Homo sapiens: one gene and its partners. The protein of the gene in region 4 purifies or fractionates together with the protein of the main gene of each other region. This does not show direct contact. Each region holds a gene or a part of one and is shown on either strand. Other genes may lie near its edges.

Region 1 (3,500 bases), on a different chromosome or scaffold from region 4:
CTACCATGATGTAGAACTTGGCACATCAGGGGCTTACCTGGGCTTCGTTCAGTTTATTATTTTCCTATGGTCTGTAAGTCCTCAGCTTCTTATACCTTGATATTAATAATTCAATAGCAATATCACAATAGTGTCAGTTCTTTTGCTGGTCATGAAATAGTAGCAATACAGCCAGAAAGAAGAAGTAGAAGATTTAGAACACTTATTAGGCTGAAGTAATAAAGAGAAAGGTTGGGCTTTCAAGACAATTTCAAGGCATGTACCACCAACATTTTAATATATAGTAAGTTTTGGGTACATATTTATCTTTGCAAGAGAAAAACTTTTTGCACTATATCACAGTATAACTCTGCCTTATAAAAACTTAAATAATTATATTATTCAGATATTGTGTCTGTGTGCATGTGTGTGAGTGAGAGAACAAGAACGAGAGAGAAAGAAAAAATGGATGAGAGAGAAAATGCATATAGTTTTTGTGTTGAACTTAACATTTGCAAATTCACAAAGTGATTAGCAAATGGGATCTTTCCAAGTATAATGAGGGCTTGATTTGACCTATATCAAATATTCTTAATAATAAAAACTTATTTTATTAATATCATATAAAAGCAGTTATTTCAAAAATGTTATGTTAATACACAAGAAGATAGATTCTTTGCCACTAAGTAGCTGTGATCTTGAGCAAAAACTTCAATTTCCTCATCTCTAAAATGAGACAGATGAACAATAGGCTTTATCTATAGTGTATAACTCAGATGTGAATATTATTTTACTTCAGGCAATGAATTTAATATTATTTTACGATTACAATGTATGTCCCTTTTGAAAAAACATTATTACATGTCTTACCAAACGTGTTTTCAGGATAGTGTGCAAACTGCTTAGTGAGATTTATGAACATATTCATTGCTTATATAAACTATCTGACACTGTGTCAATGCTGGATATGCTACTGTCATTTGCTCATGCCTGCACTCTTTCTGACTATGGTAAGTTGCTTTCTTTGGAATAAACATATTGCATAGTTAAATTTGTATTCGATTCAAACAATTTGATATAATAGTTATGACATTTAAAATTTTTAACTTGAAATAGAGTCTCTTGCCTCTGGTCCTAGACTAAGACACAAAATAAAGAAAGTGAGATTACCCTTAAAATTTTTTTTGAAGTAAAAATTATTCTCTCAGAAATTGGCAAACCAAAAAGAAAAAATTGCAAGAAACTAAAGATTCCCCAAATAAGAAAGACTGTAAGAGCTGTCTCCTTGGTAAAAATGACAGTGATCTAAATTTATAAAGTTCAAATCTGAATACTTATTAGAAGCAGCGTGATAAACGTTAATAGAGAGAAATGCATCTCCAGAGTGAGCATTTTAATCCACTAGCTCTTTAGATGTGAACATACCAAAATTAGGAATTATGTAATTTATTTTTATATCCCAAGTCTATAAAAAGGCCATGAATATAAATGTTAAGTAATTTTCTCATGTTAAATGAATACTTCGAGTTAGTGCTTTGACATTTCTTATCTAACTTACCAGTAATAACCATACTCCAGTATGCAAATTTACTGGACTAGTATGTGATAATTATGGTTGAATAATTGTAGACTTCATTACATTAAAAACATTGAAATTTCTAATGTAAATCAGCAGTAAAATTTCTAAAATGTTATGTTAATTTACTTTTATGGGATGTATCTTAAGATTTTTTCATATTTCTTATGGAAATATTAACTTTTTCTATTGGTATTTTATAGGCCAAAACTTTTCAAACTTTTATATCTCCTTTGCATCAAAACTCTACTTTAGGGGTCAGATATTCCAATGGTAGTTTTGTTTTTAAACTATTAAGAGATTTAGTCTTGCTTCATTTTAGTTTGAGAAGGATCATTCTGAAACTCCATATCTATAAATAATGAATTTTTGAAAATACTTAAAATTTTTTTTCTAACCTCACTTTTATGATGAATGTTTTCAAGTTTATGCATTTTAGATAAAGGTATGGAACATTTTGGTTTTCACATATGCTTTCACCCTCTTCCTCCTCCCCCCACTTCAGGTGGTATCCATAGAGACCTGATCCTTATTTATTTCTATAGATTAGCAGATTATTTGTGTTGATCTTCTCTATTCTCATTCTCTGAAATTTCCTTTTATACAAAATTTCTCCATGGGCTTAGAAAGAATTATTTTTATATTTGATTTTATTCTATAATCATACCTCAACTTATGAGCTAGGTGTTTGAAACCAGCCTGGGCAACATAGCTAGACCTCATTTCTAAAAAAAAAAAAAAAAAAAAAAAAAATCGGTGAGAAGTGGTGGCAGGTGCCTGTACTCCCAGCTTCTTGAAAGGCTGAGGCAGGCAGGAGGATGGCTTGAGCCCAGGAGTTTGAGGCTGCAATAAGCTATGATTTTGCCACCGTATTCCAGCCTGGGTGATAGACCAAGACCCTGTCTCTAATAAATACATAAATAAATGCTAAGCGTACCAAATTTGAAATAATATTAAAGTAGGGAAGTAGTGTTTAAGGTAGAGTAAGTAAATATGCAACTCTGTATTACCAGTAACCAACTATGATTTTTAAAGTACAATCAATGAGTACTTGGTTCTTTTTTATTTTTATTTTTATTTTTTTTTGAGACAGAGACTCACTTTGTCAGCCAGGCTGGAGTGCAGTGGCACAATCTCAGCTCACTGCAGTCTTCACCTCCCAGGCTCAAGAGATCCTCCTATCTCAACCCCACAAGTAGCTGGGACTACAGGCATGAGCCATTACACCTGGCTAATTTTTTTTTTTTTTTTGTAGAGATAGGGTTTGACCATGTTGCCTAGGCTGGTCTTGAACTCCTGAGCTCAAGCAATCAAGCAATCTGCCCTCCTCCGCCTCCCAAATGCTGGGATTACCAGCATGAGCCATCACGCCTGGTCTGCTTGGTTCTTTTTAATCTACAAAAAGCTGAAAATTTTATAAACTATTTTGGAGCTCAGGACAGTGGTAAAGAACTAAATTCTAGAGTTCTCTAGAAGTGAATAAAAGTTGTGATAGTGATTAGAGTGTGTCCATTATAATTTAGAAGAATTTGGGTGGGGATTTGGGATAATATAGTACCTTAATGTTATTATTCCAAATTGACCAGTGTGAAAATCACTAAGATATAGACAATACATACACACTACAAAATCTTTAGACACAAATATATTAATCTTTAAAAACCATTCTATTTTTTTTCTTAAGTTCGACCAGAATTTACTGATACTTTAGCAATCAAACAGGGATGGCATCCTATTCTTGAAAAAATATCTGCGGAAAAACCTATTGCCAACAATACCTATGTTACAGAAGGGAGTAATTTTTTGATCATAACTGGACCAAACATGAGTGGAAAATCCACATATTTAAAACAGATTGCTCTTTGTCAGATTATGGCCCAGATTGGTAAGTTATGGCTTTATTTATAATGACCAGTTTTACACTCTTTTCAGAATGCTTTGTGCC
Region 2 (4,162 bases), on a different chromosome or scaffold from region 4:
CCCGGCCGAAGTATTTGTTTCTAACAAGAGCATTCTGGACATTAAAGGGCCTTAGAGTATGAGAGAAAAAAGCCAGAAAAAAAAAAGGAATAGTAATAATAATTTTTTAAAAAGTAGAAATAAAAAGGTAAGGAGTTAACATCCATTAGATTCCATTTTCTATTCAAATATGTATATTTACATACAGTACTGCTGAATTGACTCACAGTTCTTAGGTCCTATAGAGGAGTGCAGTGAAAAGGAAGACAATTTACACAGTACAGAGCTGAACATAGGACTTACAAACAAAAAAAAAGTCAAGGAATACAAAGTAGCTTTCCCAGGTGTAAAGTACCGGGTCTAGAATTCTATGAGGCTAGGGAGAAGATAAACGACAAAAGCTATAAGAGATCAGAATGAAAAGAGATCCACAAGCCTAAGAAGCCCAGGCCCTTGAGGAGAACCATGAATTTGAGCAGGATTTCACTAATTCCTTTAAAAAGTAGCCATTGCCTCAAAGTACGACTCCATCAGCATAGGCAGGAAAGTGGGAGTGAGGAAAGGCTTAGAGTTTTCCAGCCTGGCTGGGGTCAGACAATTTGCCTGGGGAAATAGTGGGAGCTGAGGTTGAAAAGACCGATTGGCTTCACGTTTGTGGCAGGCCTTGTCCAAAAAGCAATAGGAAGTCGTTGAAAGGTTTTGTGCAGGGGAGCGACAGGATTAAGGCACTACTTAGTAGGAAGTCATATCAAAAGCAGCAACCTGACAAATGGCAAATACGACAGAAGGAAAAAAAATAACAGGAATTTTCTTCACAATGACTCGACTTTGAGGTAATAAATGCCTGAGCCACATTGGAAGCAGGGGTCTCAGAAGGAAGGCGCAGATGGGAAAGGCTTTTCTGGGCGGTGGCGTTTCAATGCAAGGAGGGCGCTTGAATCACTGACAGACTTCAAGTTAAGGGAGTTTTCGTGGCTGAGGTTAGTAAGTCACACGCACAGCTCTCCAAAGGCATGTATGGGGAACGCCAGCCTTGGCTAAAAGACTGATTCAAGTTATGTCCGTCACCCTGAGCAACCAAAACCACCCACTACAGGGCAGGTGACCCCACAAAGCAAACCAAGCCATCTGGTCCACGCTCCCCACCTCCCGGAGGGAGATGGAAAAGTTTCGGGAGTAGTCCCCGGCCAATCGGAAAGACATTTTTTCATTCCTCAACCACTACTCTCAGGTGCTCCAGGGAGGGAGGATGACTTCCTGACGGTCCTCCTGCCGCTCCTCCCTCGGGCCAATTATGAAACTCTGGGCACTCTTGACCTCACCCCGTTAGGGCCCGGGAGGGGCTCCCTAGTATAAAGTTCGCAGCACCAGACAGTTGAGCTCACTTGCCTGATATTTCCAGTGTCAGAGGGACACAGCCAACGTGGGGTCCCTTCTAGGCTGACAGCCGCTCTCCAGCCACTGCCGCGAGCCCGTCTGCTCCCGCCCTGCCCGTGCACTCTCCGCAGCCGCCCTCCGCCAAGCCCCAGCGCCCGCTCCCATCGCCGATGACCGCGGGGAGGAGGATGGAGATGCTCTGTGCCGGCAGGGTCCCTGCGCTGCTGCTCTGCCTGGGTAAGTTCTCCCCCTCTGGCTTCCGGCCGCCCCAAAGAGGAGACAAATAAGGAAGGCTCCTGTGCATTTGTCATTCGACAAGTACGGAGTTGTCTCCAGGTTCAAGTGTGCTCTATTTAAAATTACGTCTTGTTTTGTGAGTCTGTCTTCCCCTATGGTGGGACTGGGGTGGGGGGGACTGGGGATCGATGTTAAAATGCTTTTTATTGGTGAATTAATTATTGGCATATATGTTATGCATGGATTGAAATATCTCCTTATTAAACAAAATAAAAAGTTGTTGAAAAAGCTTTTTTTTTTTTTTTGAAAAGTTGCCAGTCCTAGAAATCTAAAGGCCTGGAACGCACTGTTAACATTTCATGTCTTGTTCCTTTTTGTTGGAGAGTGGGGAATAGAAACTAGCGTAAGAAATTTTTTGGAGGGGGGAAAAAGCTTTTCTCCTCTGTCTTGCGCTCAGTTTTCTAAAACCTAGCCTGGTTTAGCTTTCCCGGAGGAGCTGGTATGCGCCAGTGCCAGTTGGCTGAGCTCCAGACACAAGAGAAATAAAACACTGGTCGAGGGTATCTGGAGCAGAAGGGCCCTGGGCAGGTCCTGGCGCTCCCCACCGCCCTTCGCCCCTACACCTGCTGCTTGCGTTTTTCCCTGCAGCCTCCCAAGCAGCCTCTGGAGCAAGCGTTCTGCACTTGCTGCTAATTGCACTCCATAGCCTGTGATCGCTGAGGGTATTTAAATGCCAGTCTTCCTATTTGAGATGATTTAGTTCAAGGGGAAAAATTTTCTAAATAGCCTTTCTGTTAAAAAAAAATTACTTCTTTCCAATTCCTTAAACTTCAGTTTAAGGAATTTGAAAGAGTTTGAAGTCGTATATGAATATCTTAATAAAAAAATAAAAGTTACCACCAGTCTCATATTCTCCCTGGAGTTGGAATGAGGCTGATTCCCCAGACACTCTAACTCTACCTGTGAAGGATGTGACTGTTAAATTATTATTTTGGCACACCTTATCTCAGGGGTTGAGAGACCTAATGAAATGCATACTATGCATAATTGAAACTTACAAGTCTAAGTCCAGGAACACAAGTGGAAACTAGATATGTGGTTTCTGCCAAAACTGAGCTAAGAAAGACTTGCTAGAAGATTCTCAGTAAACAATGTGGCTTTGCTGTCTTTGTTTTGAAAAGAATTAAATTAGAAAGGTGACAGTCTTCCTAGAGTTAGAAATTAACCTCGAGGTCAGAATAACTTAGCACTTATTATTTTCCCCACATGTAAGGTTGCATCTGAACAATGCACATGTCTGTTCTGGGTGTTTCATTGAATATTCTAATTTGAGACAGCCAGAGCCTGTGAATAACCTGGTTACTACCCACTAGTGTGTGTGTTGTGTGTGTGTTTGTTGTCATGAAAGTGCTTACCTCCTTCATTGCATTACTTAATTATAGTTCATCTATTTCGTCAGCTGCCAAGCCCATTTCCAAATGAGTTAGGTCAGTTTCTGTTTTCCCAGTTTGTTTGGATATTTCTCTGCCACTAGGAAAGTTCCTGTTTCAAGTTCTGTATTATATCTCTAAACTCTATTCAGTTATGCAGAGCCCATAGCCTTATTTTGGCAAGACCACCTGTTATTTCTGAAATTGCCTTCTTTCCCCCAAACAAAATATTTCCTAAAAATACTTTTCCCAAATCTTGTCCTTCCCCCAGCAAAAAAGAGCGAGACATTTATTTTAAATTTTAGCATACATGTTATAACTGCTTTATGTAGTTATGACTAGGGAATAAAGTTCCAGCCTCCACCCTTAACACATACAGATTTAAATTGCTATGCACAATCATTTGGTTACTTTTAAATTTTACACTTGTTTAATATTGAGGCTCTTGTTTTATAAATTGGGGAACTGTGACCCAAGTTCACATAGAAAAATAGTGACAAAGTGAGAGTCCACACTTGGGCTTGCTAGCATTTTTGGCCTACTGAACATTAAGTAGAAGAGTTGAAATACCGGATAACATTTTTTTAAATAATCTATAATTTTAGAGCAGAATTTTGTCTTTTTTATCTTGTGATTTTTCTAAAGAGAGGAGGATAAATTTTTATGTTGAATTCTGCAGTTATGTTCAGGGGCTTTCTATTTAACATCAAACATTTTTATTCATGCCTACATGGGTTTTTGAATATGTTCCTGAATGACATCTCCAAGATAATTTAGTCGTACTTCATCAATGAGAGAGAATTAAGCAGAAGAAATATTCTTTTTTGAAAATATGAGGAGCATAAATCTCAATGAGACAATAGGCTTGTCTTTGATCATTTCTGTTGACTCTGAGAGTTTATGAGTTACCTGAGTCTTGGCACAACCTGAGATGACAAATCTTGTCAGAAAACGTGATGACAGGCCTTTCCTGTCTGGATTTTGACCAGGTACCCTCACCACCTTCTGCACAGTCTTGCCATGTGAGCAGCTTGGGTAATTGGGGTGTCTGATTCAGCACTAAGACCCAAATCCAGGAGTTGAGAAGAAAACTAACAGTTACTAAATGCCTACTGTGTGGCAGCCATGTTGTGTATTAG
Region 3 (3,500 bases), on a different chromosome or scaffold from region 4:
CTAGTACTCAATCTTTGTTAGGGCAAGTCCAGAACAGTCTTTAGAACTAATCTGGCCTCGGCCTCACTACTGAGACAATAACCCTTCTGAGGGTTCTACTTGATACGCTGTGTATTGAGGCCTTTCCATTCTGGTTAGTGGGAATGTGTAGCACAGTCTCAGCCCTATGAGCTTCCCAAACTGTTCTTTCTTTCCTCTTGCTTTTCCCTAGACTTGGAAGTTCCTCATGGACAGGATCAGATCAGTTTTCAGCTAGACACTCGAAGGGACACCCTGTGAATATCTGGAGCTCTTTTTCTGTGCAGCCCTGGTACTCTGCTCCAAAGTCACTTAGGCCTCCCCACACTCTGAATTCTGTTTCTTCAACTGAAGGAGCTGCCACATCTGTTTGGAATTTCCCATCCCTGTGCTGCAATCTGAAAACTCTCAAGGCAGTGAAGTGGGTCAATCTAGGGCTCAGCTTCATTTGTTTCCTTCATTTGTGCCTGATGGAACTTTGTAACTAATTTTTAAAAGAAATCATTTGCTGATCTGGGAGCCTCCTCCAGCTACTCCAGCCCTGTTTTTTTCTCTCTTTCATAGCAGAGCTATTCCAAAGAGTTGACTATACTTGCTATGTCCCCTTTTTCATCTTCTATTATTTCTTCTACTCCAGCTGGGCTTTCCTTCTCACCACTCCACCAAAACATGCCAATGGCACATATCTAATTAAATTACTTTCCCATACTTTCATCTTCTCAGTGGACATAGTTAACCAATGTCCTTCCTTCTTGAGATGCTTTTATTCTAAAAATGAAGAAAATCTTTTCAGTAGCTCCTCCTCTGAGTCCCAGAGCACAGCATTCCATGCGATTCATAAGCTGAAGACTCTCAGATTTATAGGACCAACTCATGACTTCCAAATTATACACTTCTAGCACAAACTGCTCTAATGTGCATATTCTCACATATCCAATCAGGACGAAAGAGGCACATTTCAAACTGAACAAGTCCATCCCTTCTACATCCCCCACCCCTAACTGTCCCTTCCCTGTAAGAGGCCCACTCATCTATCCAGCTGCTCAACTTGGAGGTTCATCCTCGGATTCTCTCTCTCCATCTAGTACATTCAAATCCACCAGCAAGTTCTGTTGGTTCTGGCTCCTCAAAATATATCTCAAATCCATCCATTTCTCTTCATTTCCACTAGCACCAACCCTACTTAAAGCCACCATCATCACTCTTGCCCAGTATGACTCATTCTCCACATGGTAGCCAGAATAATCTTGAAAAACCATTAAATCAGATCATGTCACTCCCTTAAACTCGCTAATAGCTTACTTCATTTCAACACAGTCAAAACTTCTCATGGTAGCCTAACAATCCCTTCCTGATCTGGATCGTGAGTACGTATGTGTCCTCATCTCCTAATCTACAACCCCCTGCTCACTCTGCTCTGAGTACAATGGCCTCCTGTTTCAGCTCAGGCTCTGTGCACCTGTAGGTCTCTCTGGATTATTCCTCATGCAGATCTTCCCACGGCTCATTACCACCACTCAAGTTTCAGGCCACATGTTTCCTAACCACCTACCCAAAGAAAATTATCCTTCTCCTTCTAACTAAAATTCTGTAGTATCTTGTTCCACTGCCACATAAGAACATATGGTGGCATCCTCCTGGAGTTTCAGCTACTCAGGAGGCTGAGGTGGGAGGAGCCTGGAGCCCAGGAGGCTGAGGCTGCAATGAGCCGAGATCACACCACTACACTCCAGCCTGGGCAACAGAGGGAGACCTTGTCTCAAAAAAAATAAATAAATAAATAAATAAAATAATAAAAATAATAATAAATTCTGGCTCTAATCTCAAATTCTCATGACAATAAAAGTTATTTTCTGACTACTGCATCCAATTACATCTTTAAATCCTTTAGAGACTGGCTTTTAGAACTTGACCCTTCTTAAACTGGAACCAACTATCCATGCACCTTTACTTCCATGCAAATTATGTCTACATAATATGCAAATGAGATTAACTCAAGATTTAATGACTATTCTCTAAACACATAAAATTCTTTTGGAAACAGATTTAAATATAATGGCAACAGAATATTCTCATTACAACAGGAAACTACCATAGGCCTACTGCATCTTACAGTCAAGAAAACCTGGGGCATGTGGAAGCAGAGCTAGAGGCTAGAGTAAGGCCTTACATCTAGTAACTCCGAGTTTGATGCTTTTTCCTATTAATAATTACCTAAATTAGCTGGGCATGGTGGCACACACCTGTAGCCCCAGCTACTCAGGAGGCTGAGGCACGAGAATCGCTTGAATCTGGGAGGTGGAGGTGGCAATGAGCCGAGATCATGCCACTGCACTCCAGCCTGGGTGACAGAGTGAACTCTCTCTCAATAGTAATAATAATAATAACAACCTAAGTTAAAATACATAGTTTTTCACAATCATATCATACAACTCTCTAAGGACACAAAATACATCTAACACTTTTATGTCACACAATCCCAAATACAAAATATAATGTTAAGTATCTTCTGAGAACAAAAAGCAAGGCCGTTCTAAAAATTCTATTAGTGTTTGGTAATAATGAAATTCATCTGTACATGATTTTTCATACACTGCCTTATTCACTCCTCAGAGCTATTTTGTAAGGTAGCTCAGAAGACTTAAGAAATGCAGAGACTAAAGTTCTTTCAGTGACGTTAAGTGACTTGTCAATGGATACAAAATCAAGGTAGGGAAAGTTTCCTTAGGATACACAATTGCTATTTGGATGCTCAGAGGATATACAATTGCTACATTATCAAAATAGTTCATCCCAATATATAAAAAGATTAGAACCTATATTAAATCATTCACAGGACATTTTAAACCTCAGGTCATGTTTGCCCCTAGATTCACTCTAAGGTCACATCCAATTTCTTCAGTCAGTACTTGCTATACTGAGGGAAATTCAACCAAAACGATTTGCTTAAATAATCTGCTTTGCAATTCAGCAAGTGATTATCACAACACATATCCAAAAACTGAACCAAAACTTTAAAGATAACCTCCATTACAACAAATACTTGAGGGAGGGCTTTATCTTTTAAAAAATTGATTGTATCTGCATTGATCAAAGCTACACCTCAGATAACATATTATAGTAGATGTAATAAGTACAGCAAGTTTGCTTTTGTTTTTCATATACCTATTACAGCAGGGTTGGTAGATGGAATTCACTTCATATATTTAAAGGTGCAAAGTTGAGTGTCCACTATATTTAAAATACTGTAAGAACTCAAAATCACTACCTATTATTACAGGATTTAATACACCTAATCAAGAAAGATTTTCTACAGTTTATAAATGTGTTGAAGGCAACAGTTAGCATCAATAAATTAAAAGCAATTCTAGGGCCAGGTGCAGTGGTTCTCGCCTATAATCTCAGCACTTTGGGAGACCAAGGTGGGTGGATCACTTGAGCCCAAGAGTTTGAGAACAGCCCAGGCAACATGGTGAATATTT
Region 4 (3,500 bases):
TTTGGGAGGCTGAGGCAGGAGGATCACCTGAGGCCAGGATTTCAAGACCAGCCTGGGCGAAATGGCATTTTGAATGCCTCACAAGTGCCAGAAACTGAGCTACTGAGGTGAGCAGAGAGAGGCCCCCTGCCCTGACCTCAGGAGCTTACACCTGTTGGAGGATATTGGCATTCTAGGGGCCAAACAAGATCACTCTTGTCTTCCTCTCCCAAGTGTGGAAATGATTAAAAAGTAAAATAGCAGTCATAGACGAAGAACAAAATATCAACTGTATTATTACATAAAGCTAAACCACAGAATGGAGCTTGGATCTGTAACAATTGGGCTTCCTAGTATGTCTTCCCAGAATTCAATTTATTTCCCAAAGTGCACTTCTCAGCTTACCCCAGGGTGGTAGCTGACCAGAGCGCACTCTGGACCCTGAGCAGAGCGTGCCCAGCCCTTCTTCCCTAGTTCATGCTTCATTAAGTCACTGTTCCTCCTTGGGCAGGAGTGAATAGAGATGGTGGAAGAGGTCCGCATGTTTGTGCTGTCTGAGAAACAGAGAAATAGCTCTCTTCCCCCAGTGGGAGTATAGACCGTCACTAATCAAATCAATACGCAAATAAATATAACCCTGTAATCATGACAAGTGCTATATAGAATTCTGTGATAGGAGGGCATCCGGAGAGAAGTTTGACCCAGTCAGGAAAGGCTTCCTTTGAAAGATAAATAGGAGTCAACTAAGTAAAGAGGAAAGGGGGAGCAATGTCACAAAGGGAACATTCTGCAAAGGCTCCATGGAGGGGGACAGCCTGGCAGGTCCCCATTACTGAAAGGCCAGGTGGCCCGAGTGTAAGATGAGACTGAGGAGGTAGGCGGGGACTAGGGCACTGGGGGTCTTATTCAAAATTTTGGTTGAATCGAAGAGCAAAGAGAACCCACTTGTAACCACACCATCATCTCCTTAGCCATGATTAAAATTATCTTCTCTGACAGTTTACGTATTTCTCTGTCATCCATTTTCCATTGTGCAAAGTGTGTTTCAGAATACTAACTTCACAAAATACTAGTTGGGGAAAAGGGATTTCCTAGTAAGTTTGGGGAGATGATGAGTTAGACAAAGTTAAATGGATTTCTTTAATTCGGGGCTTTAATATGCACTGTTAGTCTCCAAGGGGAGGATTTAGTAAATTTCCCAAACTTAGTTGCTCTGATTAGGGGACCTCTTTCTTTATGGGGCATCTCAGGGGACTCATGGTTGACAGACACCGTGTGTTCAATCAGGATTGAACATTTTGAAGACAGATTAGGTATGGGAGATAAACCAGAGTTGCTGCCTTAACTTCTTTCTTTACAAATGGTGTCACCTTGGGCAAGTCACTAATACCCATTATATAGATTTTTTGTCAAAGTTAAATGTGATAGCACATGTATAACACAGTGCTCAATAAATGTTCATTTCTTTCATCTGGGGTTTTCAACTTTGTATTTTAGGAACAGAATCAAGGTCATGCTTCTAGAGGACAAACCAGTTCATTTGTGTTAGGCATTTGTCCATTTCCTTGAATAGACCACCATGTTTCCCTTATATTTTATTTTGTGAAGATTGACTTTCCAGGATCTTTTTGTAACATTTATGTTGTAAATCTAAGGAATGAAAGAGAGTGTAGTGTAATTCCGCAATCCTCTTTTCTGGGTATTGCTATGATACTTATTCACATATAATATGAATTATGGGAACAGTTTCCCATTGGCTGTGTTTTATACCTGAAGTAATATGGACTGACTCATGTCCAACCCCAGATAACTGTGACTGCCCCAATTAGTGACGGGTGCCTAGGACCCCATGAAAATAAAGACAGTTTAAAAGTGAGAGTTTATTATTTTTCATGTAAGAATGTTTGGAAGAAATGGAATCATTTCCCTTCCTTCAGACATAAAGAAATCTTTCTGACACCTTGCCTATTTTAGCAATTTCCCATTGAGAGAATTAATTTATGTTGTGGTAAAGATGTATCATTTTCAGTCTGTCAAGATTATTGGTAAGTTATTTGCTGCTGTAAGAACATTCCATGTAAACATCAAAAATTAGCAGGGGAAATGGTTTCTTAAACCCCTACCACGTACAATTTTGATTGTGTACATTTTTCAATGTTTGGAATGTTATTTTACCTGTAGTTAGAGAGATCAGCTTATTTTGCCTGACTAATGTGGTTTCAGTCACTTTCATTGCCAGGTTATAAAATTCCACATTTCTACCCCTTAAATTCACTCTTGCAAGTTCTATATTCATGGTGCATTCCCACTTCAGAAGTAATAGTCATCTTGTAGGAACTTCATTTATAAAATGTTCTTTAAGGTATACTTTCTTGACAATACTGAATTAGAGCTCAGCTTTATCCTAAAGTTTCGAGTATTTCTTAGGTATAGTTGGAATCAATGTTTGTTTTGCAATTTTTTTTCTTTTCTGTTTGAAACAGGGTCTTACTGTATCACTCTATCACCTAGGCTGGAGTGCAGTGATGCTATCATAGCTCACTGCAGCCTCAAACTCCTGGGCTCAGCCTCCTGTGTAGCTCACGTCAGCCTCCTGTGTAGCTGGGACTACAGGCACATGCCACAATGCCCACTTAATTTTTTGACTTTTTTTGTAGAGATGAGGTCTTGCTATGTTGCCCAGGCTGGTCTTGAACTCTTGGCCTCAAGCAATCCTCCTGCCTCTGCCTCCCAAAACTCTGTGATTACAGGCAGGGGCCACCATATATGGCCTGTTTTGCCATTTTTACATCCTAGAAGAATCTTTTTCTCTCATTGTTTTCCTTTCCTATCCTTGTCTTTTTTTCTTTTAATATATAGAAAAAGTATTCATTTAAGAAAAGCTTAGAATAGTTTAAATCATAGATCAGCAAACTTTTTCTATAAAGGTCCATATAGTAAATATGCTTTGCAGGCCACAGGGTCTCTGTTTCAGCTACTCAACTTTGCCATTGTAATGTGCAAGCAGCTATAGAACCACCTAAATTAATGGGCATGTTGTGTTTTATTAAAAGTTTTTCTAAAACTTTATGTACAAAAACAGGCCAGAGTTGGCCCATAGGCCACAGTTTTCCAACCCCTGGTTTACATAATAGAGAAATGGAATTGAAAAATAAATGTGATTAAATTATCTGAAAATAAAGTGTTAAGATAATTCATACCCTTCTCCTTTTAAAAGTAGTAACATGGGCCAGGCACGGTCGCTCACGCCTGTAATCCCAGCACTTTGGGAGGCAGAGGCAGGCGAATCACTTGAGGTCAGGAGTTCGAGATGAGCCTGGCCAACATGGTGAAACCCCATCTCTACCAAAAATATAAAGATTTGCCAAGTGTGGTGGCTCACGCCTGTAATCCCAGCTACTTGGGAGGTTGAGGCAGGAGAATTGCTTGAACCTGGGAGGTGGAGGTTGCGGTGAGCCGAGATTGCACCACTGCACTACAGCCTGGGTGACAGAGCAAGACTTCATCTCAAAAAAAAAAAA

What was found.
Region 1: the proteins of JAZF1 (region 4) and MSH4 purify together in Homo sapiens (affinity purification with mass spectrometry; one large-scale study listed by BioGRID and IntAct). This does not show direct contact.
Region 2: the proteins of JAZF1 (region 4) and EREG purify together in Homo sapiens (affinity purification with mass spectrometry; one large-scale study listed by BioGRID and IntAct). This does not show direct contact.
Region 3: the proteins of JAZF1 (region 4) and EPC1 purify together in Homo sapiens (affinity purification with mass spectrometry; 2 studies listed by BioGRID and IntAct, with this or other methods). This does not show direct contact.

The regions. Positions count from the first base shown.
Region 1 is NC_000001.11:75,880,382-75,883,881, forward strand, and holds part of MSH4 (mutS protein homolog 4), read left to right. Parts: intron 1-864; coding exon 865-989; intron 990-3,239; coding exon 3,240-3,440; intron 3,441-3,500. UniProt on the Homo sapiens protein: Involved in meiotic recombination. Required for reciprocal recombination and proper segregation of homologous chromosomes at meiosis.
Region 2 is NC_000004.12:74,363,783-74,367,944, forward strand, and holds the start of EREG (proepiregulin preproprotein), read left to right. Parts: upstream 1-1,362; 5' UTR 1,363-1,526; coding exon 1,527-1,593; intron 1,594-4,162. UniProt on the Homo sapiens protein: Ligand of the EGF receptor/EGFR and ERBB4. Stimulates EGFR and ERBB4 tyrosine phosphorylation.
Region 3 is NC_000010.11:32,337,159-32,340,658, forward strand, and holds part of EPC1 (enhancer of polycomb homolog 1), read right to left. Parts: intron 1-3,500. UniProt on the Homo sapiens protein: Component of the NuA4 histone acetyltransferase (HAT) complex, a multiprotein complex involved in transcriptional activation of select genes principally by acetylation of nucleosomal histones H4 and H2A.
Region 4 is NC_000007.14:27,890,796-27,894,295, reverse strand, and holds part of JAZF1 (juxtaposed with another zinc finger protein 1), read left to right. Parts: intron 1-3,500. UniProt on the Homo sapiens protein: Acts as a transcriptional corepressor of orphan nuclear receptor NR2C2. Inhibits expression of the gluconeogenesis enzyme PCK2 through inhibition of NR2C2 activity.